Homo sapiens: one gene and its partner. The protein of the gene in region 1 purifies or fractionates together with the protein of each later gene. This does not show direct contact. Each region holds a gene or a part of one and is shown on either strand. Other genes may lie near its edges.

Region 1 (3,500 bases):
TCTATTCTACACTTATTTCACTCTCCTTTGAGCCCACTCCAATATGGCTTTTATCCCCAGAGTTACACTGAAGCTGGTCCTATCCACATCACCAATGACTTCCACATGCTAGATCTAGTAGTCAGTTCTCAGTCCTCATCTTCCTAACCTCTGAGTATCATTTGAGCCTGTTGATCATTCCTGCCTCCTTGAAACTTTATTGGTATCTAGGACACTTCCTGGTTTTTCTTCTACATCACTGGATGCTTTTCCTTAGTTTCTTCCTCATGTCCCCAACTTAACAATGGAGTTCTGCAGGGCTCAATCTCTGGGCTCTTGCCCTCATATTTTCTCAGCAGCCAGCAGTCATTAAAAATACCAGTTGGATTATATCACTTCTCTGCACAAATTCTCCAGCAACTTCCCACCTCACTCCCAGTGAGAAAGATCTGGTCCTCAGATCTCTGTGATCTCATCCCCTAAGATTCTCCTCCCTGCTTACTCCACTGCAGCCACACTGGCCTCTTGTTCTAGAAGGAGGCACTTGCTGTTCCCTTGCCTGGAACACCTTTCCTGTGAGATTGTCCTGGCTCATTCTCTCACCTCCTGTAGGTCTTTTCTCAAATACCTCAGATTCTCAGGAAAGATTTCTCTGGGCACCCTGTGTAAACTTGCACCCTACCTCCAACCCCCGACACTTTCCAACCCCTTCCCTGCTTTACTTTTCTTCTTAGCACTTACATCATCTAATGTTTTATATATTAACTGATTTATTCTCTATATTGTTGCCATCACCTTCACTTCCCACACTTTAATATCACTGAGACAGGGGATTTGCTTGTTTTTTTCACTGCTGATACCCTATTATAGGCTAGACCTATGATAGGTGTTTGGCAAATGTTAGGTGCTTGGCAAATGGTAGGTGCTCAGTAAGCAGTCGATGAATAAATGACATAAAATAAAATGTGAATATAAAAGCTGAAGGGAAATATACTGGAAAAGTTAAAGTTTTAATTATTACATTATCCACTTCTTAGTGGTTTGACATTTAAAAAGTGTGCATATGTTACTTGTATAATAAAAAAATAAAGATATGTATCAAAAATATAATGGCAGATTATTTCTTGATGTGAACATAATTGCTACCATTTATTGAATACTGAAAATATTTAATCTTATTTTGATCTTCATAAGAATCCTGTGACAATATGACTATTTCCAAGAGATGAAGAAAGTAAGACTCAAAGAGGGTAAGCAACTTGCCCAACATCACAAGGTTAGTATGTGTTGGGGCTGGGATTCAAATCTAGCTGTACTGGCCTTCTACACCTGTGATATTTCCAACATGCAATCCCTCCTCCCAGGAAAAGCTAAGAAATCAAACTACTCACTCGATTGCACTTTATCAGACAAATCTTGGAGCCAACTTTCTTCTGTTTGTACTGATACTGGAATTCCTGGAGACAAATTGCGATGAATATTTCTGAAATTTCGACAAAAATGTTTTGAGTATACCTATATAGTTGTTAGCAGGTCTTCTAAACATCGAACATTTAATAATCAATTAATTAATGCACGTAGAAAATATTTTGTTTTCTTTGAAATATTTTCTTCCATTTTTATCTTTTCAGTAAAGTTAACTCAGTGTGTTTGCATCAAATCTTTTTTTGGGGGGATAAGCTGGGAGGATACCTTGAGCCCAGGAGTTCAAGACCAGCCTAGGCAGCATGGTGAGACCCTATCTCTATAAAACATAAAAAAATTAGCCAGATGTTCTGTTCCATGCCTGTAGCCCCAGCTACTTGGGAGGCTGAAGCAGGAGGATGGCTTGAGCCCAGGAAGTGGAGGCTGCAGTGAGCCGTGATTGTGCCACTGCACTCCAGCTTGGGAGACAGAGCAAGGCTCTATCTCAAAAACAAACAAACAAACAAATAAACCATGACCATACACTGAAGTGTCCTTGCCCTAACTCTAGTAATAGTAGGATTTCCCAGCTTCACTCCTCCCTGCCTAGACACTCCACAGGAAATGACTCTAACATGCCCCACCCATCTGCACAGGGATCATAGCAGACTCTCCTATGCAAGCTCTGTCAGAAAACAGAACTACTAAAGCTAGGGAAGGATTCCTTTCTAGCTATTTATCAGCCATTCATTTATAAATAAAAATGGGCAACGAAGGATTACCACTTAAGAAAAATCAATAGCATTGAAGAGAAAAAGCAAGAGAAATAAACAGAACAATTGACTTTGAAAGGAAAAATAATACGAAGAACAAAGGAGAACTTTAATATATTAGAACAAAGCCCTCAAAGAGATAAAAACAAAAAAAAAAAACACAAAAAACAAACCAAATAATTTTGAACAGCAACAATCAGAGAACAAGCACTGGTTCTTCGAAATTTCAAATATGAATCCTCCAATAAAAAAATTCTGTACAAGGGCTGTATAGTAGCATGTAAACAAACATCAAAAATCCTGAAGATACTGAAAATACAAAGGAAATGTTATTAAAGATGGAGAATCTACCTAAGAGGTCCAACAGCATCTAGGAGGAGTTCTGAAGAAAAGAAGAAAAGGGGAGGAAGTAATTATATATCAGAATGGTCTGAGGATAAGACTGGTGAGGCAGTATTGGCTACTAGGAGGCAAAGAAGCAATGTCTTCAGATCTCTGAGGGAAATTTTTTTTTTTGAGATGGAGTCCCGCTCTGTTGCCCAGGCTGGAGTGCAGTGGTGCGATCTTGGCTCACTGCAAGCACTTCCTCCAAGGTTCACACCATTCTCCTGCCTCAGCCTCCAGAGTAGCTGGGACTATAGGCGTCCGCCACCATGCCCGGCTAATTTTTTTTTTTTTTTTTTTTTTTTTGTATTTTTAGTAGAGACGAGGTTTCACCATGTGAAATGGTTTTAAATCTCTTCTTTTTGGCAGGTTTTTATTTATTTTTTTATTAACAAGTCAAGTACAAGGGCAAAATGAAGAAATTTCAAAGCAGGCAAGAACTCAGAAATTTGACTATCCGTGAGACCTATATAAAAAATTCACCTGAGGAGTTTCTCCAGCAAAAGGAAAAGCAACAAAAGAAAGAAGACAATATGGGAACCAATAAAGTGTGGCTGGTGAGCCAACCCAGAAAAACTGTAGACAGAACAACAGAGAGTCAAAAAGTTTATTTTATTATTATTATTTTTTATTTATTTTTTGAGATGAAGTCTCACTCTATTGCCCAAGCTGGAGTGCAGTGGTATGATCTCGGCTCACTGCAACCTCCACCTCCTGGGTTCAAGCGATTCTCCTGCCTCAGCCTCCCAAGTAGCTGGGAATACAGGCACACGCCACCATGCCCGGCTAATTTTTGTATTTTTAGTAGAGACAGGGCTTCACTATGTTGGCCAGGCTGGTCTTGAACTCCTGACCTCGTGATCTGCCCACCTCAGCCTCCCAAAGTGCTGGGATTACAGGTGTGAGCCACTGCATCTGGCAAAAACTTTACTTTTTAAGAGACAAGTTTTATAGACATAG
Region 2 (3,500 bases), on another chromosome or scaffold:
TAAAGGTATCTGCCATGTTTGTTCATGCTACAATGAAATACTTTTCCACAATTTGTTCGTAAGTAAAATCCTTAGATTTTTCAGAATTACTGCTAATCCATTATAATTTGTCTTTCAGAATAAGCACAAAAATTCTTCCAGAATAGCCAAATGATGAGTCAACTTATGGTCACTTTCAAGGGTCCAAATGAAGAGCAGAGGGAAATACAGGTAGTATCTGCCTTCCATCAGTTCCCTAGGCTTTCTATATCAATATATGAGTACTTGTGTTCCCTTTCCTCCACTTACTTTTGGCAGAAACCAGAAGTTAGATATTTTCAACCTCTCGTTAAAATAATTAAACAGTATGTAGCACAAAAAGAGTGTCAGTGATTTAGCTTCTTAGACACTTAATAAAAGAATAAATTATATACTGAAGACAAAAAGCAGTGCCAGACACAGACTAGGACAGGGGCTGCCAGAAAGTCTATCTTAGTGGTGTCTGGAAATGTTAAGTTCTGGAGAAAAGACCAAACTAAAATTAAGAAGAACTAAGTCATTAGACTATACTCTTTGGCAGATTATTAACTACCTGTGAACATTTTAATAAAACAGACTTTTAGAATTTTTTAAAATTTCAGACTAAGGAAAACCCTCTCCGACTAGCCATTTGTTGAACACTGTCATTTATTTCCATTCCACTCACTGCTGTGGAGCCCAGTTACTCCCTTATTTTCTTATTCACATGTAGTCTGACTTATCACAAGTAAAACAAAAATCACAAGGACGCCATTATCCTTCAACATTTCCCCAAAGTACAAATCCTAATTTGCATTAAGTCCTTACAGAAACGTACACGGCAGTCCTTCTGTAAAAAGTACTGTAATTAATAAAATGATTTCCAGTTCGATATATACACACAGAACTTTACATACAGTTAAAAACTGATTAAGATGATTTACACATGCTAGGTATTCAATATTCAATACGCTTACAATAACAGTTATTTGAGAGGAATATAATCTTTGAACATAAGACAATAGATTTTGATTAAATAACTATAAATTCATTTATCTATTTTGCTATTCACTGATTGATCTAGAAATTTTAGGCACCATGAGATAACTGATGGAAAAAAATAGTTCTGTAAATAATGAACACTGCTGCTCTCTAGCATAGTTTTCTGAGAATGAAAACCTTTCCCAAAAGTCAGTATGTGAAACCTGTCTCTTTAGAAAAAGCTAAAACATTAATGTAGAAGAAAGCTTTGAAACAAGTATCTATAAGCACTCAAGGAAAATTAATTAATTTTAAAATGGAAAGGGAGGATCTTAATTTTCAAGAATAGCCTGAGAATAAAACTTTATAGAAAGAGAATATCTGAGTATCTCTTTTAAAAGAGAAAAAGTTATTAAAATTTTTTGTATTCCATTGAGCACAGTATAAAAATGACTTAAAAAGATAAATTTAAGGAAAAGAGAAAAACTGAAAGCAAATGAATGAACACAGGCAAACATATATTACATGGAGTTAACATTATATTTGCATTATCTTTTAGAATAGAATCATAACTTCTTTATGTATAAAACAATGAGGCTCTCAAGATACTCATGAAAAAGTCTAATCAAATTTCACTCTAGAGTTAGCAATCTGGTAGAGTATTAGGCCTAAATAAACCTGATATGTTAAATCAGGAACTAACATATGCTATTTTTCAAAACAGGAGCTATATAAATTACAAGCTCTTCCATGTTTTTGTTATCAGATTTGGTACACTTAAAAATAAGCTGTATTCTCCATCCAGAGTATTCTAAATATGACTGTTTTTACATCTTTTAGAACTTATAATTAATCCTAATGATCTATCTTTACAAAACACACACACACACACACACACACACACGCACACAAAGATTTGCATTTCCTACTTACTATCTTGGACAGTAAAACTGTATTTGTTCTATGTTTAAATCCATGGGTTCTGGTCTGTGAGGTTTCAAAAAGAAGCAACTTTACTATATTTTCTTTTGGTTGTTACTAATGATTTTAGCTTAAAGATCATTAATTTTAACACTAACATCCTGCTTTTTCTCATTTGAGTTGCTCTATTTATCTCAAAGGTAGACTTTATGTATTACCATTACAAAAAAATAACTATTTGCATAATACTTTATGATTTTACGTCTATTACAAACACATCACAGGGAGCCTGAGGATTCATTCAGCAGCCTGTCATTCACCACTGCAATACCCTTCAGAACCAAACAAGAGGGAGGATGACATTTTACTAATGGCAGAAGTACAGGAATGAATGTAAATAACAAACCTTGAAGTTTTAAAAATACAAAAGAAAAAAAACAAGCAAAAAGAGGATGATGCATGAGCACAAACAAAACAGTTTCAATTTGTAAAACTCCATGTCTGCTATATATACAGCAAGGTATTTGGCAATTTACGTATTTCTATTATGGTAACCATTTAAATTATTTAAAACTATACTACAAAAATAAAGGAAATTATCATTTTTTCCTGGGTTGTATAAATTAATATTATAATAATATTAAAATTGACTATTCCTATTTATAGAATTCAGCTTTTCCTCAGCCTTGTGAAACAATCTGAATATCAATTCTCTATTACTCTAGCCTTAGCCCTACAAATATTCACATTAAGAATGCTTAAGACGCAGATAATGATATAATTTATTTAGAAATTGAGTGGTTTCATAATTTTTTGGTAAAAGAATCATAAAAACATTTTTAAGCTTCCATATTTTCTCCTATAATCATCACTCCAGATGAAATGCATGAAACACTGAATGCTCAGTTATGTCACCTTTAGTCGAAATGCCCATAGCCCTTGCAGCTTTTCATAAACAATATGCCTTTATACTATATACCTACCCCTTGAGCCATCAACTACTTAATGCTTTCAAGTGTAGTTTCAAACGCAGTTTTAACACCCTCTTGCGCGCACACACACACACACACACATACACTGAAGTGTGCAGAAAAAGGAGGAGGTGGAGAGCAGAGGAAGAAATGGAGCACGTTGTTGTTTTTCATTCATGCAGTATAGTGATGTCAGTGTCTGCAGCAGCAGTGGCAGCGGCAGGAACCTTGACCAGTGGAGGCTAAAATCCACTCAAGTCAGAACCTTACAGCATTCAAAAGAAATTGAGAAGATAATCATTCGAAAAATTAAATCAACTGTTCAGATCATGGATTTTAAATGGCTAAGGAAACAGAACAGTTTAGTAGGACAGTTTTAATTTGGGTAGTGGGGGTAAAAGGCGGGACATGGAGAAGTAACATAGGAGTAATATAATCACGGAACTGGGGGCACAGAAGCCCGCATTCAAAAATCACTGCAATGTAAGAAACTGACAAAACCACCTGGTGTTTAAAACAGCAGAAAAACATCTTTAGCAAAGAAAGCCCTTGCATTCCCAACACAAGCTCTCTGACACTGCAAATCTGTCTGCTGCACAACCAGACTCAGAAAAGTGTTTTCATCATGAT

The links.
Region 2: the proteins of ERICH6 (region 1) and GLCCI1 purify together in Homo sapiens (affinity purification with mass spectrometry; one large-scale study listed by BioGRID and IntAct). This does not show direct contact.

Annotation. Positions count from the first base shown.
Region 1 is NC_000003.12:150,697,421-150,700,920, forward strand, and holds part of ERICH6 (glutamate-rich protein 6), read right to left. Parts: intron 1,463-3,500; coding exon 1,371-1,462; intron 1-1,370.
Region 2 is NC_000007.14:7,971,796-7,975,295, reverse strand, and holds part of GLCCI1 (glucocorticoid-induced transcript 1 protein), read right to left. Parts: intron 1-3,500.